Linked DNA regions of Homo sapiens. The protein of the gene in region 1 interacts with the protein of each later gene in a pairwise test. Each region holds a gene or a part of one and is shown in the gene's direction. Other genes may lie near its edges.

Region 1 (7,342 bases):
ATTGGCCTGTGATGTTGTCTCTGGACAGCAGAATATGATGCTTAATGCCCCATCCCCTCAGGAAGGAGCCCTACTCCCTGGAAAACACCTGGCTAGACTTGGACTTTGGGAATATCCTACAAGTCAGGGTGATTTGAGTCTACAAAAAAAAAAAAAAAGATGAGAAGGGGGTGAAAGGAGTAACTGCTATATTTAGAAGGAGGTTAAGGATAGCAATTGATTTTAAGGGTGGGGCTAGGGAACTTGTCTTTAAAATCCTGCATTTGCACAGCAAGCACAGTTCGTATTGAGATTTTGCTATTTGGAACTGTAAGGGAGGTATAGGATGCTGCCTAATGGGAGGTGGGATTGCAGAGAGTTTTCTATGTAATTTCTTGGTATCACTTTCCCTCTCTTTCCTCCATGGCCAGCGATGATGACTTTGACATGTCTAGATACTCCTCCTCCGGCTACTCCTCTGCTGAGGTGAGCCCCTACCCCTTCTCACCCTAGACACCACCGGGCAGGATCACTGCCATCCCGGGGGAGGGCTGGGGCCAATGCCCAAGTACAAGGAAAAAGAGGGCTGGGCAAGGCTGGGTGGTGCCCTGCACAGGGTGGGCCTGGGATAGGATGGAAGAGAAGTGGTTACTGGCCTCAAGTGCATGGAGCCCAGGGTTAGGAGTGGGGCTTTAGATTGCAGCAGGCCATTTAAATAGAATGGGTGTAAAATACAGGTGATATCCTCTAGTAGCCGGCCTGAGATAGGGGCAAAACCCGAATAGGAGCAGGACCAGAGGTGTGAAGTTGACCATAGAATGGGGAGGGGTGACTAGAAAGAGAGGCCAGAGGCGAAGGAGGGCGCCTAGGCAGGAGCGGGGCCTGGGGGTACAGACAGACCCGGGACAGGGCGGGGCTGATATCCAGGGCACTGGCTGGACTGGGGCGCAGACGGCCTGGAGTGGCCGCAGAGCTGTGGGTGGTGCCTCCCTGCCGCTCGGGCCTGACCTCCCTCCCCTTTGCCTACAGCAGATCAACCAAGATTTGAACATCCAGCTGCTGAAGGACGGCTACCGGTTAGATGAGATCCCCGACGACGAGGACCTAGACCTCATCCCCCCCAAGTCCGTGAACCCCACGTGCATGTGCTGCCAGGCCACGTCCTCCACCGCCTGCCACATTCAGTAGCGGGCGGGGCCACTGCGGTCGCCGGGGCGGGGCCGCCAAGGGCCGGGTAGGACGGGCAGAGGCCGACCCCTTCCCAGCTCGTCTGCCTGCCCCCGGCCCCGCGCCCCTACAGCCGCCAACCTCGTATAACAGTCATTGCTTCCTCCTATGGTAGGACGTGTACCTCTGTGTGTTCATGGAGCTGGAGAAACCAAAACTGGGTCTCTCTCCACCCGGGAGCTGAGGAGGGGTGGGGGCCGTTTGTTCAGTTACCTGGGGGAACCTCACCCAGCACCCTGCCCCGCTTCCCAGGGCTGGCCAAGAGAGAAGACTGGACGGCAGGGAGGTCAACATTAACGAGTGGGGGGATCACAAAGCCAGGGGCTTGGCCCCACCCCAGCGAAGCCATGAACTCCCAAGCCCCGGCCTCAGCCTAACCAGGAAAGGGGCTCGGAGGGAGAAAGGCCCAGGGCAGTGGGGACGGGTCCCAGCACCTCGGAGCCCCCTTCACACGCCCCCTACCGGCCCATGTTTCTATTTGCATTTCCCCCTCCTCAGATGGGAAGCCTGGCAAAGCTGCCCAACCGGGTAGTGCCCCTCACCCATCGGATCACTGCCTTCTTCCTCCTCTTGCCCCATTCACCCGCTTCCTTGCACTCTGGGAGTGGGGCAGGGTAAGGTGGGCCTTACAGACAGGCTGAGGTTTGGGTGGTGTGATCTGTCCTAATTGGCCCCTCACCAATGCATCTATCTGTCTGCCACCAGCCCACCCCACCCTGCCCCCACCCTCACCCACGCTTCTGCTCATTGGTCTCAATCCCAGCCTGGAAGCAGGGAGTAAGGCTGGACTCCAATGGCCCATTCCCCTCACCCCAGCCCAAGACGTGGGAGGCTGCTTCCCAGTAAGAATCCAGGAGCAAGCTTTGGTGAATCCAGTGGGCTGAGTGGCTCTATGGATGTGGTTGTTTGGATGTGGTAGGGAGTGCTTAGCAGAATGTGTGTGTATCTCTGAGGCTGTCAGGGGGTGGGTGGGTGTGTGTCTCTGTTGGACCTGTCTCTCCTCAGTCTATTCCTGTCATAGATGTGGGTGTCCCTGGTAGGGAAGTGCCTGTGTGGTCTGTTTACAGTGCAGAAGGCGGCTCAGCAGTGCAATGGGCTGACAGCCTTGGACCGGGAGTCAGAAGCCTGGGTTCTGGTTGTAGCTCTGGCCCCTCCCTGTGATCTTCAACAAGCCACTTGCTTTCTCTCGTCTTCAGTTTCCTCAACTAGAAAATGAACAGCAGCTGAAATTATGTTGAAGATCCTTTTATACCTGAAAGAGTTTCTTCATAGAAATTTCTGTGGTGGGGAGGGGGCAATCTCTGTGTGTCTCAGTATACCTAAAGGTTGGGGTGGGGCGGAGTTGTGTGTCTCTGTAGAAAGGCGAAGGGGCAGTTCCTATCAGGACTGTGTATGTCTGAGCACATGTGGCTCTGTTTGGGATTACGTGTTTGTCTGTGAATGTGTGTGTGTGTTGGAGGGTTGTCTATTGTGTGTGGCTGTATAGGGTGTCTGTAGATCAAGATGTGTATACAGCTGCTTCTGCTATTGCTGGTTTGGGGGAGGGGACTGGAAAGCTGAGACTGAAAATCAAGAGGGAAGAGGTGAGGAAGGCCCACCCCTGGGGCTGGGCAGTGTAGACCTGCCACCGTGTGAAGAAAAATGAAAGCACAGATAGCCTAAGACTGCACAGGCCTGTGCCCACATACCTTATAGCACAGGCCCAGGTGGATCATCTCATGCTAACACCCCACATGTGCTGGTGGATCCACTCCCATGGATCCACTCACATGCTGCAGGCATGCAGTAGACTCACCCACAGCCCACTCTCTGGACACCAATCCTGGGAGGTGGGAGCTGGAATGGGGAGCAATGAGAGGAGGGAGTGAGACTGTTGGCTTAGGAAGGGTGGTACCTCTCCCTGCATCATACCCAGGAACTGCCAGCTCCAAAATATTGGGGTACAGCTCACCACCCCCCACTCCGCCAACCCATTCCTACCTCCTCTAGTGCAGGGACCCAAGTTAGATGATGAGAAAATGCCAAACAAAGGGAGGCAAGGACAGAGAAGGTACCTGCAGGACCCACAAGGCCCATACTGGCCCCCATCTGAACCCACCTCTCCCACCCAGATCAACATCCCCCCAACCCCTGTGCCCCCATCATCTGGACCCCAGAGCCAGCCCTCCCACTACCACCACCACCACCCCGGGGCTCCTTGGCTCACCTTTCTAGAACATGGGTACCTCCTCTTTTTGGGGGCTCATTTAGACTGCTGCCTTTGCTGCTGACTTGCAGTGTGACTCGGGCCCATTGTTCAATCTCTGTGGCCCTGAGACACCAGGGAAAATCTCCCCCCCCACAGGACATACTAGTTCCCTGGCAGGCAAGGGCTTCCAACTGAGGCAGTGCATGTGTGGCAGAGAGAGGCAGGAAGCTGGCAGTGGCAGCTTCTGTGTCTAGGGAGGGGTGTGGCTCCCTCCTTCCCTGTCTGGGAGGTTGGAGGGAAGAATCTAGGCCTTAGCTTGCCCTCCTGCCACCCTTCCCCTTGTAGATACTGCCTTAACACTCCCTCCTCTCTCAGCTGTGGCTGCCACCCAGCCAGGTTTCTCCGTGCTCACTAATTTATTTCCAGGAAGGTGTGTGGAAGACATGAGCCGTGTATAATATTTTTTTTAACATTTTCATTGCAGTATTGACCATCATCCTTGGTTGTGTATCGTGTAACACAAATAATGATATTAAAAGCATCAAACAAGCCAGCCTCAGCTCCCTCCCTGGGGTGTGGGCAAGGGGCAGATGGGCTGGGAAGCAGACAGAACTGGTCCTCTGGGCACACATGTTACTCCACCTCCACCTGTGGGTTCCCAGGCATGCCACTGACCTGCTGCATGACCCTGGGTGAGTCACAACCCCTCCGAACCTCTGTTTCTCTTCAACAGTGAGAAACCTGACCTAGAAGATCTCCAGAGGCCCTCTGAACTCTTAGAAATTGGGCTCTTTTGATAGGCTTGAGGCAGGAGGGGGTCAGGAGCAGGGAGGGAATTAGACCTCCTCACCTTCCCAGGGATGGGGCTGAGCCAGGTGATATCACAATGGGCAGTGCCCATCCTGGAGGGGGCATCAGTGTGGGGTGGGAGCAGGAAGGCTGTTGGGGAAGGAAGCTGAGAGATCCTCTGCAGGAGGGGATTATAGCAGCTAAGGGCACCTGCCAGGCTGGAGGTGTGGCCTGTCTAGGGGAAGGGTGGTCACTGATGTCCAGCAGGAGCCCTTGACAGGTAGAGCCCACCACGGCATCTCCAAGACCACACCATGTTCCTGTTCTCCCGTAAGACCAGGACCCCTATCAGTACCTACAGTGACTCCTACAGGGCTCCCACCTCCATCAAGGAGGTCTATAAGGACCCACCCCTGTGTGCCTGGGAAGCCAACAAGTTTCTGACTCCGGTAAGTGGGAGATTGGTGGGGAGGGGCAGGCCAGAGTGTATGGCCAGTCTGGATGCCTGGCAATGTATGTTTGTAATGATTTGTAGCTTTGTGTATGTGTGTGTTTTATTCATTTACCTAGGCACAGAATTTACAATGGTATGTAAAACAGCACAAAATCCTGCCTTCATGGAATTACATTAGGGTAGGAGGTAGGAACAGGCAGATAATAAGAAATAAACATGAGTTTTATAAATTCTTCAAAAATACTGTAAAGGAAATAAACAGAGTAGTGGAAGTGGAAATGGAAAGGGAGGGCTACTTAGGTCATGGAAAACCCTCTCTCAAGGTGACAATAAACTGAGACTGGAAAGATGAGATAGAACTAGCCACATGAAGACCTGAAAGAATAGAAGAGCTGAAAGTTCCAGACAAGTGATCACAAAGTGCAAAGGCCCTGAGGCTGCCTGTGGAATAGGCCGGAAACTGTCCTATATGCATGCCTTTATCTATATGTATCACAGTTTACTTGTGTCTGTGCTTGAAGATTGGTGGCCAGGTGGGAGGAAATCTGTGAGTCTAACTGTGACTCTGCCTAAGAGAATTTATCTGTGTGTACCATCCAACTTTGCTGAGTATCTTCATCTGTAGGCAACCCAGGATACAAAAGGGAAGGGCCAGCCCTTGCCTTTGAGGAGCTCACAGCAAACAAGTGAACAAAGTAGAGTTGCCCGATGTGGAACATGCACCAGCAGAGGTGGAGAGCCAGAAAGGGGAGAGCGCTGCCCAACCTGAAGGGCAGACCTACTGAGGGATCCAGGAGGAGGAGGCTTCCAGCAGAAGACAGTCAGGAGAAAAGGCAGCCTGTGGGCAGGGACCTACCAGAAACTGAAACTGTTAGAGCAGGAGAGTTTAGTCCTTGGGTGAGAGAGGAGTCTGCAGACCAAGAAGGGCCTCTCTGGCTATGTTGTGGAGCGTGGACATAAGGCTCCAGGTTTTTGAACCTGGGAGGGAGAGTCATGGTTCAATTGTGAGTTAGGCCACTCTGGCCACAGTGTCAGGGAATTGCAGGGGCTGGGGTTGAGGGCAGGAAGGCCAGCGAGGGGTGAACAGATGAGGAAGGAGGATGTAGGTGGGAGATAAGGAGATTGTCACAATGAAAAAAGGAATTCGTTGAATAGGAGAGAATTTTTAAAATAATTTATTTTGTCTAACTCCAAAATAAATATACGCTGAATGTAGAAAATGCAGATAACTCAGAGAAGCACAAAGAAAAAAGGTCTAAAATCCTACTACCTAAAATTACCATTGTTAATATATTATCGTATGCCCTTTCAGGAAGCAAATATTGTTTATTATAAAAATAAATAAAATTTATTACAAAATGGTGTATTTAAGGAATCTTATTGAAAATTTAGGTACTTTATAAAATTTTGCTAGTATAATCATTCTTATACATGTATCTTTGTACACATTTCCAATTATTCCCTTAGGATAAATTACTAGACATGAAATTGTTAGGAGAAAAGATATACACATTTTTAAAACTTTTGCTATATACCTCAAATTGCCATAATAAGTAAGGGTTGTAACAATTTACATTTCCACAAGCAAAATATGAGAGTGCCTGACTCCATACTCAATAGAAGGGAATTTTAAAAAGTAGATGAACAGATTTTGGTCACCATATGGATGGTAAGGTGAGAGATTAGGGTGACCCTTGAGTTTTTGGCTGTGGCAGCTGGAGGAATGCTAATGCTATCAACTGAGGTTTGGAATAACAGATTAGAGATTTGGAGTTCATTTGAGAACAAAAATATTTGAGGATATCCAGGAAAAGATGTTTGGCAAGTAGTTAGATATACTTATCTGAAGCAAAGGAAAGAGGTCTGGGTTATAGATAGAGATCTTGAAGTCATCATCATATAAATGGTGGGTGAAGTCATAGGAAGAGATGAAATTGCCAAAGAAGAGAGAGAAAATGGCCAAGGACATAACTTTGGAGAATATAAATATTTAAGGGTAGGTAAAGGAAAAAAAGCCATAAAAGAAGACAGAGAATTATTGCCAGAGAACTAGGAGGAAAATCAAAGATAAACCAATAAAGACAGCATTATTAGACAAAGATCAGTGTCAAGTGTTAGTGACAGAGAAATCTCTCGGATGTAGTAACTCTTGGTAACTTAGCCAGACAGCTTCAATGAATGGCGAGGAGTGAAAGTCAGATAGCAGTGGTATTAAGAATGAAGGAAAAGCCAGGCATGGTGTCTCAGGCCAGTAATCCAAGCACTTTGGGAGGTTGAAGCAGACAGGAAGATTGCTTGAGCCTACGAGTTCAAGACCAGCCTGGGCATCATGGTGAAATCCTGTCTCTACCAAAAATACAAAGATTAGCCAGGTGCAGTGGCATGTGCCCATAGTCCCAGCTACTCGGGAGGCTGAGATAGAATCACTTGAGCCCAGGAGGTTGAGGCTGCAGTGAGCCTTGATCACACCACTTTACTCCAGCCTGGATGACAGAGCGAGGCCCTGTCTCTTAAAAAAAAAAAAAAAGAATGAAGGAAAAGCTGCTGCTTTTGGCAGTATGGTGGTCTAGAAACTCTGAAGGGCCCTGTTGCTTCAAAACAACTTAAGTTCTGAATAAAAATTAATTTTTATTTTGTGTTGGAGTCTCATGGAGATGAGTGGTAAGTATAGTTAAGAAGACAGGATTGTCCTGAGGACAAATGCC
Region 2 (7,026 bases), on another chromosome or scaffold:
TTCTGGCATGTTTTCATTATCTATAAGGACAATTATTATTTTAACACTTTTGTATTAACATTTGATCAGTCTTTTTGTATTGCTCATTTTTATATGAAATTAGTTTTTCTTAACTTGAAAAGAGGGCTGACAGGACAGTTTTTCCAATTTCATGGCTCTAGAGTTCCCTTTTCTGTTGTTTTTGTGAAGTGTTTAAAATACACAGAACTCATTTTCTGATATATTCTGGTCTATTAAACCTCTTAACTTTCATCTGCAGTCCTTTTTTTTTTTTGTCTCTGTTGTCTTTGTTGCATTCAACTTGGATTATTTTCCCAGCATCTTATCAGTATGGGGCTTTGTCCATGGAAGGGAGTTTTGGCCATTTGGTTTTAAGAGTTTATTTTCAGCCCTATAAGATCTTACTGCAAACTACTTGCATCACCCACTTTTGGGATGATCTCAATCTGTTGTTTTCAGCTAGACTTATTAAGCAATGAAGTCAGTATCTATGGATGGCTTTAACATTCATGGGTTCATCATATACCCTGTTGCTTCTCTCTGCTTTTTCTTTCACAGGCGCTGAAAGCATGCTGCTCTTATAGCTGTTGGTATTGGTGGGACTACCTTATCACCTAGTGTTGTTTTAGATGCAGTCTGTGGGTTTGGGTATTGCTGTCCTAGTAGCTCTGGTATGCTTTTATTATGTGTGTATTCAGTTTAAAAAATTATGCCATTACCATCTTCCCAGAATCCCCAATCTTAATATTTGTATTATTTTCTACATGTCATCTCTAGATCCTCAGACAGATTCTAAGCCTCCTGAGGGATTGTTAGGATTCCACACAGACTGGCTGACATTAAATGTTGGAGGGCGGTACTTTACAACTACACGGTAGGTGTGTGTGTATGTGTGTTAGAAAGAGAATGCAAAAGAAGCACTGTGTACCCTTTGTTCTTCAATTTGCTGATTTCCTTAAAAGATACTCAAATGCTGCTTAAATATACTATGTGATCTGAAACCATTTTTTATAACTTTTTTTGAAGAAAAAAACATGGTTCACTCCAGAGAAAGCATAAAAGGCATCACTTCAGTGTTTTAGAACATGCTTTTGGCTGGGCGCGGTGGCTCACGCCTGTAATCCCAGCACTTTGGGAGGCCGAGGCGGGCGGATCACGAGGTCAGGAGATCGAGACCATCCCGGCTAAAATGGTGAAACCCCGTCTCTACTAAAAATACAAAAAATTAGCCGGGCGTAGTGGCGGGCGCCTGTAGTCCCAGCTACTTGGGAGGCTGAGGCAGGAGAATGGCGTGAACCCGGGAGGCGGAGCTTGCAGTGAGCCGAGATCCTGCCACTGCACTCCAGCCTGGGTGACAGAGTGAGACTCCTTCTCAAAAAAAAAAAAAAAAACATGCTTTTTAGATATTGAGTAATAAACACACAATATAAGTAAAAATTAACACTACTGAAATTTGTGGAGACTACAACTGCTTTTATTAAAGGGCAGAAAAATGTAAGTTTGGAAGATCAAGAATATTATTATGTAATAATTTGCTTACAGGATAGACAGACAAGTATTTAAAGCAAAGGAAACTAAAACAATGTTTAAATCAAAGGAAGTACCCTATTAGAAGGGATCTGATAAATGGCAACTTACTGCACGTTTTTGTTTCCCAGCGTTACTCCTACCAGGTTGTAGCATGCATCTTTTTGAGAGAGCAGCTGGGATCGAGTATACTCTTGACTTAAATATGTTTGTTTATAAAGACAAATGGAGAAATCAATTTTTTTCCCTGAATTCTTAGGAGCACTTTAGTGAATAAAGAACCTGACAGTATGCTGGCCCACATGTTTAAGGACAAAGGTGAGTGTAACACGTTGTTTTCACATTTCATCTTACCTGTTTTATATCTGTGCTGACTTTATAACTCCTGACCTTCTGTACTTACTAATTATGTCAGTTTTTAAGAGTAAAAACTTATATTTAGCAATTTTTTCCTCATACATTTCTGACTTTATTTTTTGTTTATGGGGGACTTTCTTTATTATAATGGTGACACAGGTGTCTGGGGAAATAAGCAAGATCATAGAGGAGCTTTCTTAATTGACCGAAGTCCTGAGTACTTCGAACCCATTTTGAACTACTTGCGTCATGGACAGCTCATTGTAAATGATGGCATTAATTTATTGGGTGAGTTTATTTAGACTTTCAATATAATTATGTAACTACTCACATTTTTGTAAGTTTAAGATTTTAACTTTGTTTCACTCAGTAACAGTATATTTCCATAAAGTAAAAGTATATATTTTTTCTATTTTTTAAACTAGATGTTTTCACATGTATATGAGTGATATAGGTGTAGAAATAGATTTAGGCACGGGCAGGTGGTCCTTCAGGTAGATAGTCTTTGTACATATAGCTAAATATGTAAGCCATACGCATCAACTTTATATTCTAAATTGATTTACGTTCTATCACAAGTGACTTTAAAGGATTTTGTTGTTTCCTTTTTTAAAAATTGAATTAAGAATGTAACTTGGCTCCAAGTTCTGGATATTCCCCACATTATGTGAGAACTAGAGTAGTCAAGAGGGCAAATCATGCCTTGCAATCATAATTCTCAATTAGAGTCTTGATTCTACAACTTGCTAACTTAGGGAGACTAACTTGGGGAAATTTCTCTGAGTCATATTGGAAAAATGAGTGTTAAAAGCACTCTTGACCCTATCTACATCACAAGATTTTTGTGAAGATTCACGGAGGTGATGTAGACAAAGCCCTTATAAAACACTGGTTGCATATTTGGAAGCTAATAGGCCTCCAAGTGACTGAAGTTGATGTGATGTTAGTACTTGAGGAATGGTAGGCAGTTGGCAATCTTGAGGTCACATGCCTGTCAGCTTCAGCAGATCATTGCCATGTGCAAAGTGGTCAGACGTAGAGTGCCAGAACCTTGGTTTTTAAAGAAAACCTGGGTATCTAAAATTTTATGTGACATGTTTTTGTTTTGAAAACATTACATGCTGAACACATCAGAATCAGCCTGAGGACTGCTGGCTTACAGTTTCTGTAGTGAAATACAAAACACCCATTAACTTTTAGTGTTGCTATAACAAACTTTATATTCCCTTGAACATGTACCTATTGCAAAAAAAAAAAAAAAAGATATTATTTGACCCTTTTAGCTAGTTCTATAACTTTATAACTAAATTCTTGTTGCTTTCTATTTCTCCCATTTTAATTTTTCTTCAAATTATTGATAGCATTTTGTATCCCACTTGCCTAGAAAATGTCAGAAATATATTTATCCATGCTGTGTCACACATCTGCAAACCAAGCTATTACCAAGATTTGCTAGTTTTTTCTTTTTCATGTTTCTCAACCATTTATTTGTTCAAGTGTTCAAAAAGCAGAGCTCTCTGCTGGATTCATTTTATAAAGCATTGTTTTCAGTTAGTACAGTTTCCATCCAAACTCTTTACATTGCCTACAGGTTGCCCCAAGTAATTATATGCTTTAAAACAATCTACAGTAATTTCACTAACACCAAAAAGTAGTGAGTGGCAGAGCTGGGATTCAAATCCAGATTTTTTTTTTTTTTTTTTTTTTTTTTTTTTTTTTGAGACAGGGTCTCGCTCTGTCACCCAGGCTGGAGTGCAATGGTGTGATCTCTGCTCACTGCAACCTATGCCTCCTGGGTTCAAGTGATTCTCCTGCCTCAACTTCCCAAGTAGATGGGATTACAGGCACACACCATGATGCCCAGCTAATATTTGTATTTTTTTTGTTTTGAGATGGAGTCTTGCTGTGTCACCCAGGCTGGAGTGCAGTGGCGCGATCTCGGCTCACTGTAAGGTCCGCCTCCTGGATTCACGCCATTCTCCTGCCTCAGCTTCCCGAGTAGCTGGGACTACAGGCACCTGCCACCACGCCTGGCTAATTTTTTGTATTTTTAGTAGAGACAGGGTTTCACCATGTGTTGGCCAGGCTGGTCTCGAACTCCTGACCTCAAGTGATCTACCCACCTCAGCCTCCCAAAGTGCTGGGATTACAGGTGTGAGCCCGGCCTGTCTTTTGTATTTCTATGGCTTCTCTGGATGTTTTAAAGGTTTAATTCTAAACCTAGAATTGGAAACGTATCCTGGCTGCATTCCCTAAGAGTTCTGCTTTACTTAGACCTTGGCAAATTGAGAGCGTGGCCCACAAGAACCTCTTTTATAATATGTTGAGTTTCCACCAGGGATATATATCCGAACGGAATGGCATAATCTTTGGATGCCTCTTGAAGGGGAAATGTGGACCCTGTATGCCAGAGTGGTAGCCCGATGCTGTACCTTGGATGACGTTTGTTTTACAATTGGATTGTTGACCATAGAGTTTGGTCTTCACAGAAAAGATTGTATTATTCTTCCCAAATAACTGCTTCTGGTTTTCTGTATCTACTTACCCTTATTAGCTTGTAAGTGTTTGAAGGGAGGGATTATGTCTGATACTTTCTTTGTAATTCCAGAGTTCTAAGTAGTTTTTTACTGAGTCAACAGCCAACTGATTGAGGTCTTCTCATTTGAAAGATAATGGAACCCAAATGTATTCCCACACATTCTGATGATGTTTATTAACAGATTAGAATAAGTAAATATACCAAGTCATGTAAAGGATGTACATTTTTTTTTACCAAGTTAAAGTAAATGATAAATGAAAGCTCTTTTAGTATTTACAAATATTTTAAAATTTATTCTCCTATAAGACAGATTTCTGAATTATACTTTTGACTTTTTTGTACTTTTTAAACTTTTATTCATTTCTATCATTTTCTGATTCAGTATGTAAAAGATACTTGTGGCAAACCTGTTCAGATCTGCTCCATTTAAAAAGGCAATTAAATGTTAAGATTATGTGAACTAATCGTATTTTAGTAAATTCAAAATGAATGTAATACATTCACTAAATTAGGTTGTTTCAGAATTATTTTTGTTCTGATAGGTGTGTTAGAAGAAGCAAGATTTTTTGGTATTGACTCATTGATTGAACACCTAGAAGTGGCAATAAAGGTAAGCCTGTTTTTACATTAGCCAGTGTTACATTCATTGTAGCTATCTCCCAAAAGACTCCACTAATTTCTTAATGTCTTTTTTAAGAATTCTCAACCACCGGAGGATCATTCACCAATATCCCGAAAGGAATTTGTCCGATTTTTGCTAGCAACTCCAACCAAGTCAGAACTGCGATGCCAGGTAATTAGCAGGCTTTTACATCAATTATTTCTATCAGCAAATCTATGAATAAAATTTTACATTCTTCTAGTGTTTTGGGATTATCTTGCTTTGTTTTTCTTTTACATGCAAGATCTAATTTAATTATGAGTCATAGCATTGATTTAGTTCTGAAATGGTTAACGAAAAAGAGATGCAATAATAGCCTTTTTAAATTGTCTAATTATACCTCATGCAACAGTTTATGAATAATGCATAGAAATTGCAGCAGTTTTTTAAAAGTCAGTATTTGTACATTTGCAATATATGGGCTGATCAGTGGCAGGTACTTTACTTATGTGTACTATAGCATTTCAAATTGTAAAGACCACAGTACTCATTTTTGCCTAATAAACTGTTTTGAATTACTGAATTAATAAAATAATTTAAATATAATTAGGTTTAAATACTTATTAGCAGGTATAGGACTAACAGGGATCCCTCTTTAGAAGCTTCTACACAGAAATGAATTATAGCCGGGCTATATTCTAATGTATATATTGATAGAGTTTCTTTTATGAGGAACCTATTTAAGGACACTTCTTTTATGTATCTAAGTTCCATTTTATCATGTTCTGTAATAAACTCCAAGTGACTGAACTGCCAATTGCTTCTAAAAAAAACTTGGTGGTTAGCTATAGTAATTAAATTTAATACAAACAGACGATTTAGTTATGGTGACAATTTGTGCTTTTTTATTTCAGGGTTTGAACTTCAGTGGTGCTGATCTTTCTCGTTTGGACCTTCGATACATTAACTTCAAAATGGCCAATTTAAGCCGCTGTAATCTTGCACATGCAAATCTTTGCTGTGCAAATCTTGAACGAGCTGATCTCTCTGGATCAGTGCTTGACGTAAGTATCATTTTAGGCTACAAGAGAAAATTAAATGTTTAGTCTATTGAACAGTCTCAAAGAGCCTTTGAGACAGGAATTATAACTATCTTTTACTGGAGCTTTTACTTGAAAACAGATAATTTATTATGTTGATATAAGACTAAAGGTCTGAAAGTGAAATGAATTTGGTTTTACAGGTTTGATATCCTTTATTAAACATAGACTTGAAAGGTTTAGTAACTAATAAGAAATTAAATCTTGGAATTAGTTCTTGATCTCCTCAATATACTGTACTTTATTTATCAGGACTCATATTTTCAGCTAATTGTAAAGGTAAAGCTGAAAGGAACCTTGAAATCTATTCAGCCTCATTTCTGGAATGGGAAAATGTTACTGCTCAAGAAGTATTTGACAGATATTTTGAAATAAACATGGTATGCATCAGTTTGTGGAAGTTAACATCTCAGTGGCGTTTTCCCTCTCTCTACATATATGTGTATATTTATATATATGTATATGTATGTATTTATAACAGTTATCTGTGTTTATTTGAAGTTAGAGGATATATGCAGACCAACAATGAAATCTATTAATTTTTAACAACTTTAAGTTCCTTACCACCAAGGCCCGTGTCTGTATGTCTTTTGAATTAATACCATCTTGCTTTTGGTAGTCATTTATTGAATTACTCTAATTTGGGTTTTACTCATTAGCTGCAGCTTATTTTTCCATGAAGCTGTGTATCAGGGCGAGTAACAAAATCTACCAAATATGCATTTTAGTTACTTTCACTGTCCTTTATTCTGTCTTATCATGAAGGGTCAGGTTAGTAGCAAAACAGGAAAAAGACTAACATCAAAAAAACGTTTGAAGGACCTAATCTTTAAATAGTGAAATGTCGAGAGGCATCTTTGTTTGTGTTAAGGACAAAAAAAAAAAGATGTTTGTCAAAAACG
Region 3 (7,026 bases), on another chromosome or scaffold:
CTCTAGTAACTGTCTTACAGACATTGAATGTTAGAGCTAGAAAAGACTTAAGGGAACATCCAAGTCATATTTTAATAAATGAAGAACTTAAAGAAATTTGTTTAGATGCACATAACTAGACAAGGAATAAGTACTGATCTTTGAGTGAAAAAAGCAAAAAATAGAAGTGTGTATAGTATACTGCAATTTATGTTTGAAAGGGATGTATATGATATGTGCATATCCACAGACTATCTGAAAAATATGAGGAAAAATTGTTGCTTCAAACATAAGGGATTTTAGATACTGGAGAACAGAAGTAGGAGGAAAATTTACTTTTTACTAGATATCCTTTGCTACTCAATAACAGTTTACACATCTGTCACCCCCACTAAGAGTACAAACTCCTTGATGGTAAGGCCCACCAGCCATATTATATTCATCTTAGTAATCCAAAATGGGCCTAGCAACTGTTTCTTCATTTTTTCCAGGGAAAAAATGATTTGTTAGTGTATTTAGAAAGATTGTAAAGCTTGAATTTTGTGATAGGGATTCATTTTAAATATTTTATTAGGTGTTTTATTAACCAATCCTTTTGTAGCCTGTATACACTCTTGGCATTACCCTGGAATAGGATATTGCAAAATCAACGCACATTTTCTAAGAAGTAGAAAACTATGATCCAGAATTAAGTAAGGCAAAAGCAAAGAAAACAACTCTCAAGAAGATGGAAATTGAATTATTTACAGACAGAAGTTTCTTCAAAGTTTTCCAGAAGATACTTACATTAAAAATTGTGAGAAATTTGCCACTTCTCTCTCTCTCTCTCCAGCATTATGATGACATGTCCCTTAAGATTCAAATTTTCATTAAGTCCCTTTATACATTGTGAGCATGGAGTTCGTGTATGCCCAGCATTAGAACTACAGAGGGCAGGGAGTGGGCAGGCAGAATATTGAACAGACCTAAGTGTGTATCACACTTGCCCTCTAGTGTGCATTTGCCAACAATGCACTTCTCTGGGCTGTCTGGTTTTAAGCCTAGGGCGTTTCCAAACAGAGGTCTTTTCAAGCTGGTTTTTATAAACAGATAAGCCCCATTTATATTAATTCTGTTTACTGCTAATTTGTAAAGAGTGCTATTAATGGGCTTAGAAGCAGCGTATTCTTATTAATAGTTAAACATCTCCCTCTTATTCATACAACTCTTGCTTTGTAAACTTTCTTTCACAAAAGGACAAAGATAGACTTTAATGGTCCAATTAACCAATTTCTAAACTAATGAATTCATAGTATTTTAATACAAGAAATAAAGGTGCATAATTATGATAGTGATTTTTAAAATATTTCATACTATTACATGAAGAAGCATTTTCTCTTCAACTCAGAAGACTTCTGCAGGCTTTGTTCCTGTTTGCTCTTTACATTTACATTTATTTGTGACTACATCAAAGCAGCCCTCATCTGGCAGATGAAAAATCTCTACTGTAGCATAAAGCCTATAAATTATCAACTGTTTCCATTTAGAATATAATTTTGGCACTTATTAACAAAGCCTAACCAGGACTGAGGTTTATTCTAGCTCGTTTTATCATTCTCTGTGCACTGCATTCGCCTCATGGTCCAAGATGTGTGGTCTGTTTCCAGTAACATATCAGCAATCCAGCCAGAAGGAAGGAGGAAGGGGAAGACATATCCACTCCTTTTTAGGATTCTTCCTGGAAGGTACACCCATGACAACTATACACAATTGGCAAGAATGGCTGAAATGGCCCTGCCTGGCTGAAATGTCTTCATTCTGGGCTGCTCTATTCCCAGGTGAAGACGGGAAAACAGGGCAAGAAAGGCAGAATCGATATGGGGGACAACCAGTAGTCTCTCCCATAGTCTATGTTCCTACCAATTGCCTTTATTTGACAGATTCCACTATTCTCTATTTTTTGTTTGTTTGTTTTCTATAGAAAGTAGCATTTTCCTTTTCATTTGACTTCTATCATGAAGTTCTGATGTTAAAGACTGTTTCCCTTTTTTTTCCCCATTCTATCTCTAAATAAACTCAAGTCACTTGGCCTTGCAGAGTTTCACCAAGTTGGTGCATTGGTTCCTCCCACAGGTGATGGCTGTGCTGCCTGGCCCTCTGCAGCTGCTGGGAGTGCTGCTTACCATTTCCCTGAGTTCCATCAGGCTCATTCAGGCTGGTGCCTACTATGGGATCAAGCCGCTGCCACCTCAAATTCCTCCTCAGATGCCACCACAAATTCCACAATACCAGCCCCTGGGTCAGCAAGTACCTCACATGCCTTTGGCCAAAGATGGCCTTGCCATGGGCAAGGAGATGCCCCACTTGCAGTATGGCAAAGAGTATCCACACCTACCCCAATATATGAAGGAAATTCAACCGGCGCCAAGAATGGGCAAGGAAGCCGTACCCAAGAAAGGCAAAGGTAACATCATACTCCCAGGCTGTTATAAAACAACAGCTTTCCAAATCTCTAAATTATGGGATCAGAGGGGGAAGATAAATTTTAGAAGCTTTAGTTTTAGAATTTGTTACTGGCATTTTTAAAATGCCTACTGTGTTCTAACCATATTCTTGAAAACTTCAAGCCTTAAAGACACAGATAAGACTACCATTTATGTTTTGCTTTATTATTTTAACTAGCATCAGATGAAATAAAATATATTAAATCACAAATAGTCTATCCCCTTATTGTTTATTTATTCAAACATTCAGCAACTATCTATAGTGAGCACCTATTTGTGTCAGGCTCTGGGCCAGATGCTGGGAGCTAAAGCAGTGAAAAAAAAGAAAGGTGACAAGTCAGTCTTCTGAACTAAGAGAGCAATGTTGTAAGGACCTGCTGTGTTAAAAGAAAAGTCACAGGAAAGCATTTTGCGAACTAAGTATTAGACAGGTGCAAGTGTTCTTAATACTACTCTAATTACATATGTCAATCAATAGATCAACAGAAGGAAACTAAGAGTATAGACTGCATCTAGGGATGACACCTGAAAATCTCTCCTGTTGCTTTCTTGGCGTATTTATTTAGCACCAACAAAATGCCCCTCAGTGTGACAGACACTTGACGATAAATTCATTTGGTTTGTCTGGAGTTCTCAGAAACCTAGTACTTGCTGCATCAGAGCAGCAATTACCTTTGAGGAAGTGGAGCCAGTCCCACTAGTCCCTACAATGGCAGGAAGCTCCACCTCTGGAGAACTACTGGATTTGGAACTTAGAGGCCTAGATGCCTGGATGCCAGAAATGAGAGAGACCTAGTCATTTGACCTTTCAGAGCCTATTTTTCTTCATTTGTAAAATAAGATTGTTGAGAGAATCAGTGACATACATAGTAAGTAAAGTGCTGAGTAAATGCTAAAGCACCATAGGAAATTGGAGTTGCTACAACTGCTCATTCAACAAATCCTCAGTAAGAACAGAGTGTGTTCCAGGCTCTGTGCTAGACACCAGGGATTCCTGATTCATCTCTCCTACTCTTCCCCAGATAACTCCTCAATACAGTAACTACACAATTCGCTGGTTAGAAATAGCATGCCTGAATAGTACTATAATCATATCTATTCATGTAAAGAAAGTATTCCTGACTTTCTTCTCTTTAGGAGCTAGTATTATACTTAGAAGATTATCTCAGACATTTCTTTTCCTTCCTTTATTGAATGGCTTGCCTTGCCTTTGGCACTTCTTGTACTTACTCTGATGGATCCTCATATCTCGAAATGAGTTCTCTGTTTGTATTTTATTCTCTGACAGTAGCTCAGCAAAAAGTACAATGGTCAGGATTAAGGTGCTACTAGTGACATAAGTATTATGCCAAGAAGATATTGGGACCATATATTTCATTTCTCCATGTTATCCATTAGTCCCAGCAGCATGGGAGATCCAGAGTTGTGTTCATCTGAAAGGCACAGCATGTTCATTATAACAGCACGTGCTGTGTATTTCAATAACAATTTGAGAAACGGTGACACCTTTCACATCTATTCTCTAATCTTGTAGTGTGGCTGTATTATTCTTATTCTTGCTGTACAGATAGGCAAGCAGAGATGCTGACAGCTTAAGGGACCCAGTCACAATCTCACGCCAAGACCAGAAAGATAAGCAGAGCTTCTTGTTCCTAAGTCAAGCTCTCGACTTCATCCATACTGTTTATCATTCTAAAATATCTTATTCATCTCTCCTACTTAAAAGCCAGATTTGTATATGAGAAATTATTTGTTAAATTAATGAACTAATATTTGAGGCTTAGGAAATCCCACAGCACCTTCAAGAAATTAAGCAAATCTACTAATTCTAAAGGAGAGATGTGGAAAGATGTTATTGAACCACACAAAAAATAACTCTATTCTTTCCTATTTCACATCATACTGTATTTAAGCATAAGAGGAAATATCTTGGCCATAAATTATTATATTTAAAAACTTTGCCAGGCACAGGAAGAAAAATCCTGCATATTCTCTCTTAAATGTGGAATCTAAAACAATCGAACTCATAGAAACCCAGAGGAGAATGGTGGTTACCAGAGGCCTTGGGGTGGGGCAGGAGGGAGAGAATGGAGAGATGATGATGAAAGGTTTAAAGCCTCAGTTAGGCAGGAGAAATAAGTTGTTTTTTGGATATCTATTGCATAGAATAGCGAGTATAGTTAATAATAATGTATTACACACTTCAAAATCACTGAAAGAGTAAATTTCAAATTTCTCACGAGATAAAAATAAGTATTTGAAGTGATAGATATATTTAGCTTGATTTAATTATTCCACATTGTATTCATGAATCATAGTATCACTTTGTACCCCATAAATAAAATACAACTATAATTTGGATAACAACTCCAATATTGTTTAAAATACACACACACACACACACACACAGATAGAACAAATGAGATGAAAATATATATACATGTTAAGTGGTTATCTCTGAGTAGTGGGCTTATAGGCAAATTTGATTTTTCTTTATACATCTTTGAATCTTCCAAATTCACTATAATAAACACACCATAATATCTCCAAGTTTTATACTTGGAAAAATGTTTCTTCTTCATTACTTTTTAGCTTCTTTACTTAACCAATGTTGATACAAGCAGCTTCACATATCAGTTATCAAAAAAATACCTCAAATACATAAAAAAAAATTGTCAGCTTGATTTTTCTTTCTTATTTATTTATTTTTTTCCTTTTGGAGATGGAGTTTCGCTCTTTCACCCAGGCTGGAGTGCAGTGGTGTGATCTCAGCTCACTGCAACCTCTGCCTCCTGGGTTCAAGTGATTCTCCTGCCTCAGCCTCCCAAGTAGCTGGGACTACAGGCATGTGCCACCACACCCGGCTAATTTTTGTATTTTTAGTAGAGACGCGGTTTCACTGTGTTGGCCAAGCTGGTCTCGAACTCCTGACTTCAGGTGATGCATCTGCCTGGGCCTCCCAAAGTTGTAGGATTACAGGCACGAGCCACCATGCCAGGCCTGATTTTTAAGGTCTAGAAGATGAGCATATTATTCCTAGTCTTTTCTCTTGATAAGTATTAGGCAAATGTGTCAGAACTAAATAATGGTTGTCAGTACTTCATTGATGTGAGAGACAATCTACTAATCAATCTCTCTCTCTCCCCCCATACCCCTTCTCTCTCTTCTCTTCCCAGTAGAAATACCATTAGCCAGTTTACGAGGGGAACAAGGTCCCCGTGGAGAGCCTGGCCCAAGAGGACCACCTGGGCCCCCTGGTTTGCCAGGTCATGGGATACCTGGAATTAAAGGAAAACCAGGGCCACAGGGATATCCAGGAGTTGGAAAGCCAGGTATGCCTGGAATGCCAGGGAAGCCAGGAGCCATGGGCATGCCTGGGGCAAAAGGAGAAATTGGACAGAAAGGGGAAATTGGGCCTATGGGGATCCCAGGACCACAAGGACCTCCAGGGCCTCATGGACTTCCTGGCATTGGGAAGCCAGGTGGGCCAGGGTTACCAGGGCAACCAGGACCAAAGGGTGATCGAGGACCCAAAGGACTACCAGGACCTCAAGGCCTTCGGGGTCCTAAAGGAGACAAGGGCTTCGGGATGCCAGGTGCGCCAGGTGTAAAGGGGCCTCCAGGGATGCACGGCCCTCCCGGCCCTGTTGGACTGCCAGGAGTGGGCAAACCAGGAGTGACAGGCTTCCCTGGGCCCCAGGGCCCCCTGGGAAAGCCAGGGGCTCCAGGAGAACCTGGGCCACAAGGCCCTATTGGGGTACCGGGGGTTCAAGGACCTCCTGGGATACCCGGAATTGGAAAGCCAGGCCAGGATGGGATCCCAGGCCAGCCAGGATTTCCAGGTGGCAAAGGGGAGCAAGGACTGCCAGGGCTACCAGGACCCCCAGGCCTTCCAGGGATTGGGAAACCAGGCTTCCCAGGACCCAAAGGTGACCGGGGCATGGGAGGTGTTCCTGGGGCTCTTGGACCAAGAGGGGAGAAAGGACCAATAGGTGCCCCAGGAATAGGGGGTCCTCCAGGAGAGCCAGGCCTGCCTGGAATCCCAGGTCCTATGGGCCCTCCAGGTGCTATTGGTTTTCCTGGACCCAAAGGAGAAGGTGGGATTGTAGGGCCACAGGGGCCACCAGGTCCCAAGGGTGAGCCAGGGCTTCAAGGCTTCCCAGGAAAGCCAGGTTTCCTTGGTGAAGTAGGGCCTCCTGGCATGAGGGGTTTGCCAGGTCCCATAGGGCCCAAGGGGGAAGCTGGGCAAAAAGGTGTACCAGGACTCCCTGGTGTTCCAGGGCTTCTCGGACCTAAGGGAGAGCCAGGAATCCCAGGGGATCAGGGTTTACAGGGCCCCCCAGGTATCCCAGGGATTGGGGGCCCTAGTGGCCCCATTGGACCACCTGGGATTCCAGGCCCCAAAGGGGAGCCGGGCCTCCCAGGGCCCCCTGGGTTCCCTGGTATAGGGAAACCCGGAGTGGCAGGACTTCATGGCCCCCCAGGGAAGCCTGGTGCCCTTGGTCCTCAAGGCCAGCCTGGCCTTCCAGGACCCCCAGGCCCTCCAGGACCTCCAGGACCCCCA
Region 4 (6,878 bases), on another chromosome or scaffold:
GAGCCCAGGACTTTGAGGTTACAGTGAACTATGATTATGACACTACACCCCAGCCTGGGATCCCATCTCAAAAATAAGTTTAAAAAATTTTAGAAAAAGATTCCCAGCCACTTAGAATTCTCCACATGCCTTCCCAAAGCCAAACACTATCTTGATTCATTTTGCCAGTTTTTAACTTTATTATTATTTATATTTTATAGAGACAGAGGGTGGCTGTGATGCCCAGGCTCGTCTCAAACTCATGGCCTCTAGTGATCCTCTTGCCTCACCCTTCCGAGTAGCTGGGATTCCAGACACATGAACTTTATTTTTATTTTTATTTTTTGAGACAGAGTCTCGCTCTGTCACCCAGACTGGAGTGCAGTGGCGCAATCTCGGCTCACTGCAAGCTCCACCTACCCAGTTCACGCCATTCGCCTGCCTCAGCCTCCTGAGTAGCTGGGACTACAGGTGCCTGCCACCACGCCCAGCTAATTTATTTTTTATTTTTTTAGTAGAGTCGGGGTTTCACCGTGTTAGCCAGAATGGTCTCGATCTCCTGACCTCGTGATCTGCCTGCCTCGGCCTCCCAAAGTGCTGGGATTACAGGCGTGAGCCACTGCACCTGGCCATGAACTTTATATAAAATGGAATCATGCAGTGCTGTGATAGAATCATAACCACTAAAGATATCCACATCCTAACCCCCAGAATCTCTGAATATGTTACCTTGCCCAACATAAGGGACTTTGCAGATGTGATTTAGTTAAAGACATTGAGACAGGGAGATTATGCTGTATTATTCAGTGTGCCCAGTTTAAGCAGAAGAGTCCTTTATAAGAGGGAGGTGGAAAAGGTAAGAGTGATGGGATGTGAAAAAGACTCCACCTTCTGTTGCTGACTTTGAAGATTGACAAAGAGGCCATGAGCCAAGGACTATGGGGTGGCCTCTAGAAGGTGCAAAAGACAAGGAAACAGATACTCCCCTGGAACCTCCAGAAGGAACACAGCTTCTACCAATGCTTTGACTTTAGCCAGTGATCCTTGTCAGACTTCTACAGAATTATAAAATAATAAATTTGTGTTGTTTCAAGCCCATTAAATTTGGGGTCATTTGTTACAGAAGCAATAAGAGACAAATACAGGTATTTACTCTTTGTGTCTGGCATCTTTCACTCAACTTTTTTTTTTTAGCCCAAGCCCATGACAGTAGATCATTGTATTTGTACTATATAACATTCCATTACATGAACATGCCACATATTCTTCGTCAACTGTTGATGGACATTTGTGTTGTTTCCAGTGTGGGCGCTTATGAATACTGTGGCTATGAACTTTCTTGTACATGTCTTTGGGATAAGGTATGTGCATATTTCTCTTGCACATATATAGGAATAGAATTTCTGGGTTATAGGGTATGCATGTATAGTGGCTGCTGTGATGTATCCCCAACTCTTTCAGAACGAAAGGACCTATTCCCTTAGCTGCTGGGAGGACCCCTGGCTGGCAGTCCCAGCTGCCAGGGCTCTGTGCAAACTAGTCTCAGCTGAAAAGAACTTATTTGGCCAAGGTCACACATGCCTCCTAGGAACGACCTGTGTCATTCAATGACTGGTTGATATGTAAGGGTGGGGGATATAAAGGCCCCCTCCCCCAATGATACCTGGAATAGCTTTGAAGGGTCACCCTGGATTCAAAGTTCTTCAGGGATCAGAGGAGGCTTTTGCAGAGGCTACATACCAACCCAGCTTCTCCCCCACCAACCCTGCTTCCCTCCCTTTCCTGCAGGTGTTGATCATGAGAGCACTCCCTAGTCAACTTTCTTTCTTTTTTCTCCCTCTAATCCAATATGATTGATATCCCTAATCAACTTCCTGCATGCTAATCTCCATCTCAGGATCAGCTGCCTGGGAACACAACCTACAACAGCTTACGTTATTCAGCTTTCATGGTTATCAAGCAGTCTTTTTTTTTTTTTTTTCCAAGACGCAGTCTTGCTCTATCGCCCAGGCTGGGTGCAGTGGCGCAATCTCAGCTCACTGCAACTTCCGCCTCCCAGGTTCAAGCAATTCTCCTGCCTCAGCCTCCCAAGTAGCTAGGACTACAGGCATGTGCCACCATGCCCAGCTAATTTTGTATTTTTAGTAGAGACAGGGTTTCACCATGTTTCCCAGGCTGGTCTTGAACTCCTGACCTCAAGCGATCCACCCTCCTTGGCCTTCCAAAGCGTTGGGAATTACAGGCATGAGCCACCACGCCCGGGCAGTTTTCTAAAGTGGTTGTCGTCCTATGTATTCCCTCCAGCAGGGTGAGAGAGTTCCAGTTGCTCAACATTCTTGCCAATACTAGGTATTTTTTGTCTTTTTTTTTTTTTTTTTTTTTTTTTTTTTGAGACAGGATCTTGCTCTGTCACCCAGGCTGGAGTGCAGTGGCATGACCACAGCTCCCTACAGCCTCAACCTCCTAGACTCAAGCAATTCTCCCACCTCAGCCTCCCAAAGTATCTGGGACTACAGCCGTGTGTCATTATGCCCACCTAATTTTTATTTTTAAATTTTTTTATAGAAATAGGATCTTGCTATGTTGCCCAGGCTGCTCTTGAACTCCAGGCTCAAGTGATCCTCCCAACCTCGGCCTCCCCAGAGTTCTGGGATTATAGGCATGAACCACCACGCCTGGCCTTTTTTTTTTTTTTTTTTTTCCCTAAAGCCACTCTGGTGATTGGGTAGTGATACCTCATTGTGGTTTTCATTTGCATTTTTCTGATGGCTAAAGAAGTTCAGTACCTTGTTGCATATTTATTCAGTTATTTGTGTATCCTTTTTTGTGAATTACCTGGTCAAATCTTTTACCCACTTTTCTACTGGGTTGCGTGCCTTTTTCTTATGACTATGCAGATGTTCTTTCTGTATTCTGGATACAAGTCATTCGTTGGGTATATCACAACATTATTCAGAGATTCTCAACGGCACCAGCACATTAGGGTCCCAATAAAAATGAGTTACGTGAATGCTTGAGTCCGAACACTCTTCTAAGGAAAGAATGCTTGGACAGATGCAAGTGTGTATAGTTTTAATGGGTATAATTGGATATAGGATATGGGTCCCAAGGAAAGGAAAACAGAACCTTGAATGCAGGTAACACACCCTCAAACTTTGCCACTTTCAGCCTGTGGTTTCTAGCCACAAGCACTTAAACACGCAGTTCCCAAAGGCAACTGTAAATTAGTATTCATTCATTCAAAGAATGTCGATGGAAGGTATCAATGACCAGCATGTTGTTTGTTTTTTGTTTGTTTGTTTTTTGAGGCAGAGTCTCCCTCTGTCGCCCAGGCTGGAGTGCAGTGGCGCTATCTTGGCTCACTGCAACCTCTGCCTCCAGGGTTCAAGCGATTCTCCTGCCTCAGCCTCCCGAGTAGGCATGCGCCACCATGCCCAGCTAATTTTTGTATTTTTAATGGAGACGGGGTTTCGCCATGTTGGCCAGGCTGGTCTCGAAACCCCTGACCTCAGGCGATCTGCCCGCCTTGGCCTCCCAAGGTGCTGGAATTACAGGAGTCAGGCATCGCGCCCGACTGGTGAGCAGCCTGTTCTAGGAAGTGAGTAGCCAGCTGTGAAAGAGAAACAATATTCTTGCTTCCAGGAGATCTAGGAGAGACGACAACTTCTAAAATAGCATAATTTTAGACATGAGACATAAACTGAATAGGTCGTAGGGGGAAGTAGGACGAAAGGGTTGATCAAGCAATTCCCAGACCAAGACACCAGGAGGGTCCCGCCCTCGGCCCCGCCTCCAGCTTTGCATACATCTCCTGATTGGTCGGCGGCGGCAGGCCCCACCCCGCGGAGCCGAGCTCCGCAAGCTGCAGGCGGGCTCCGCCAAGATGCAGCGGCGGCTCCGGTTGTCGCCGGGCGGGCCAGGAGCAGCGCGGACCCGAGCCGGGCAGGGGGCGCCCGCCACGGCACCCGCGCGCTCCTAGCGCCCCAGACCCGCCTGCGGGCCCGGATCCTCCTTGCCACTGTCCCACCCGCCGTCCCTGCCACTCCACCCTTTGTGTCGCCGCAGCCCGGTGCCCCCGGCTCTGCGGGACCCCGGCCGGGCCGGACCCTGGCAAAGCGCCAGGCCCCGCGTGGGCTCCCGGCGAGCGGTTGATGGCGAGGGGGCGCGGCGCGGGCTCTGTAGCCCGAGTTCCCGACGCTGGAGGCCCGGCCCGCCTCAGCCGCATTGTCCCGGGCCGCGCGCACCGGCCCTGAGCTGCGCCGCCGCAGCACCCGCCCGCCGCCCGCGGGGCCATGCGGAGAGCCGCCGGGATGGAGGACTTCTCCGCGGAGGAAGAGGAGTCCTGGTACGACCAGCAGGACCTGGAGCAGGGTGAGCGCGGGGGCGACCGGGACAGGAAGGCGGGGAGCGCCCGGTGACCCCTGTCCGCTTCTCCATTGTTGGGCGCTATCACCCCGGGAGGGGCTGGGCTGGACCGGGCGCGCCCGACTCGGAGGAGGGACGCGTCTGGAGAACCGGGACGTGGAGAGAGGGGGCGCTGCCGGAGAAGACGCGGACCGGACGGGCGGAGACCTGCAAAAGTGGGGGGCGGGGGGCGGTCTTCCTATTTTCCCAGACGACCGGGCATCCGTCATCCAGCTCGCCCACCCCGTCCTGGAGGCAGCAACTGCTCGGCCGCCCCTGGTATTGTTACGGGGCCTGAGCGCTAGCTAGGAGTCTTCTGAGGCCGGGAGGCGGCTCCTTCGTCATGTTTTGCTGGGAGGGTGGCTTGTGTGTAGAGGGAAGTTATCTCACGCCAAATCCAGCAGCACCCGTCCCTGACAGGAATTATGAGCTCTAAGACTCCTAGAAAGTTTCCCTAACTCGCTTCCTACTCAGGGAGAAGTGGTACCGCGTCTTTGCTGGTGAAGAAGCAGAAAGTCAAGTCTCCCATCTGCCTTCGAGAGTCAGGAGTCGCTTAGCCCTCCCCTGCCCGGTCCCCTTGCAAATGGCTCATGGTTTGGAGGGGGTCAGGTTCGGGAATCCCGGCCAGTGTGCCAGGCGAGAGACCGAATAAAGAGGGATACATCTCCGCTGCCCCCAGTTGCCATCTGAGGACAGAAAGGGCGACTGGAAGGGGGTTAGAAGCTGGTGATGAGGTGGCCGAAATGACATCACTGGGAGTGGGGGGTGGGGCTGTTGGGACAGAAAGGAAGAGGAGGCCTGCTGGAGTGGAGTCAGTTCTATCCTCTCCTCCCCTAAGATGCCTCCTTCTTGGATGGTGAGAGCTGGAAGGGGCGAGGAAACATGTCCAGGGAGAAGTGACCTTCCCATGGCCTCCAGCAAGCTGGGGGGTGTGGACATAAGTCTGCTGCAGTTTGTGCCATTGTGGCCTGCTGTGGTGTGCCCACACCCTGGTCTCCATCCACAAGGCTCCAGAGGGCTGGCTTTGCCCTGATGTGCAGCAGCTATCCGGATTCTGAAGCCCCTGACCTACTTCCCCACATGGCCAAGACTGGCTGGCAGATGAGGCTCTGTCCTTGTGCTGAGGACAAGGGTTAATCATAGCCTCAGGGGGACCAGGGTGGGACTGGGGATGCTGGACTAGGCCCTGCCATGGTCTGTGCCCTGGACTCTGGCCTCAGCCTCCTTGGCTGAAATGAGATACAGCTCCTCTCAAACACACACACACACACACACACACACACACACACACATCCACACATTGTGACAACCCCCTCTCCCATCCTGGGCAGTAAATTTTTCCATGAACACCTATTAGGCTCCCCTTAAGTACCAGACACCATCCTGGGAGCTAGGAATAGTCACAGCCCTGACCCTGAAGGTATACCCTGGCAGGTGAAGGAGGCAGGCTTGTAACTAAGTGTAGGTGGCACAGTATTTTTTTCTTTTTTCTTTTTATTTATTTATTTATTTATTTTCAGACAGAGTCTCCCTCTGTCACCCAGGTTGGAGTGTAATGGTGCGATCTCAGCTCACTGCAACCTCCATCTCCCGGGTTCAAGTGATTCTCCTGCCTCAGCCTCCTGAGTAGCTGGGACCACACCTGGCTAATTTTTGTATTTTTAGTAGAGACAGGGTTTCACCATGTTGGCCAGGCTGCTCTCAAACTCCTGACCTCAGATGATCCACCCGCCTTGGCCTCCCGAAGTGCTGGGATTACAGGCGTGAGCCACCACGCCCGGCTGGTGGCACAGTATTATGGGCAGTGGGGAGGGCTTCCTGGAAGAGCCAGGCTTAGAAAGAAAGATCAGAAACTGAGTTCTTGAGAAGATGGTTTTCAGGGAGGCCGATGCCAATATTGTTGCTGTCTCACTTAATTCCTGCACCCCTAATGAAGGCTTTGGCACTGTTCCTGGCCCAGAAATGGGAAAGGAGCCAGGGCATAGAGGTGGGAGATGCGCAGAGATGTGCAGCTTCTTGAGAGAGAGAAGGATCTGAGACTCCAGCTGCGCTGGGTGGCCGTGCTCTGGGCTGCCGGGAGGGATGGGCCCGGCAGGCCTCTGCTTCTCTGGCCCTGCTGGTCTGCAGCTGTTGGCCTGGCCTGGCAGCTCCAATGGTAGCCAAAGGCCAGGAACCAGGAGGGAAAGCAGAAATGAGACAGAATAAACTGGAGCTTCCTGCCAAAAGCTGGATGTCTGCTTACTGTGGGCCAGGTACTGTGCTGAGCCTGAGGACATAATCTCTGCCCTCAGAGGACTCCACGTTACATTAGAGAAGACAGAAATAGGACCAAACTCACAATGGCGTCAGAGTGAGGGGTTCTGCAGCTGTAGGCCCAGCAACGGGGACAGCAGAGACTTAGAAAGGTTTATGCCAAGGCCCTTTTGAGCTGGAGGCTCCCCAGGAGAGGGAGGGAAGAAGGCATTCCAGGGGGAAGCGATGCTTGTACCAAGTCA

Evidence for each region.
Region 2: the proteins of SPMIP6 (region 1) and KCTD9 interact in binary tests that used the Homo sapiens proteins (3 or more experiments, as listed by UniProt).
Region 3: the proteins of SPMIP6 (region 1) and COL8A1 interact in binary tests that used the Homo sapiens proteins (3 or more experiments, as listed by UniProt).
Region 4: the proteins of SPMIP6 (region 1) and CDR2L interact in binary tests that used the Homo sapiens proteins (3 or more experiments, as listed by UniProt).

The regions. Positions count from the first base shown.
Region 1 is NC_000009.12:34,394,789-34,402,130, reverse strand, and holds the start of SPMIP6 (sperm microtubule inner protein 6), read left to right. Parts: upstream 1-4,320; 5' UTR 4,321-4,497; coding exon 4,498-4,632; intron 4,633-5,796; exon of another isoform or gene 5,797-7,342. Other genes in the region: protein FAM219A, read left to right, coding at 411-465, 1,009-1,167. UniProt on the Homo sapiens protein: May participate in intramanchette transport and midpiece formation of the sperm tail. May play a potential role in somatic cell proliferation.
Region 2 is NC_000008.11:25,434,425-25,441,450, reverse strand, and holds part of KCTD9 (BTB/POZ domain-containing protein KCTD9), read left to right. Parts: intron 1-777; coding exon 778-874; intron 875-1,658; exon of another isoform or gene 1,659-1,786; coding exon 1,787-1,845; intron 1,846-2,043; coding exon 2,044-2,172; intron 2,173-4,965; coding exon 4,966-5,033; intron 5,034-5,120; coding exon 5,121-5,216; intron 5,217-5,938; coding exon 5,939-6,088; intron 6,089-7,026. UniProt on the Homo sapiens protein: Substrate-specific adapter of a BCR (BTB-CUL3-RBX1) E3 ubiquitin-protein ligase complex, which mediates the ubiquitination of target proteins, leading to their degradation by the proteasome.
Region 3 is NC_000003.12:99,788,589-99,795,614, forward strand, and holds part of COL8A1 (collagen alpha-1(VIII) chain precursor), read left to right. Parts: intron 1-2,091; 5' UTR 2,092-2,094; coding exon 2,095-2,422; intron 2,423-5,641; coding exon 5,642-7,026. UniProt on the Homo sapiens protein: Macromolecular component of the subendothelium. Major component of the Descemet's membrane (basement membrane) of corneal endothelial cells. Also a component of the endothelia of blood vessels.
Region 4 is NC_000017.11:74,983,773-74,990,650, forward strand, and holds the start of CDR2L (cerebellar degeneration-related protein 2-like), read left to right. Parts: upstream 1-3,859; 5' UTR 3,860-4,271; coding exon 4,272-4,350; intron 4,351-6,878.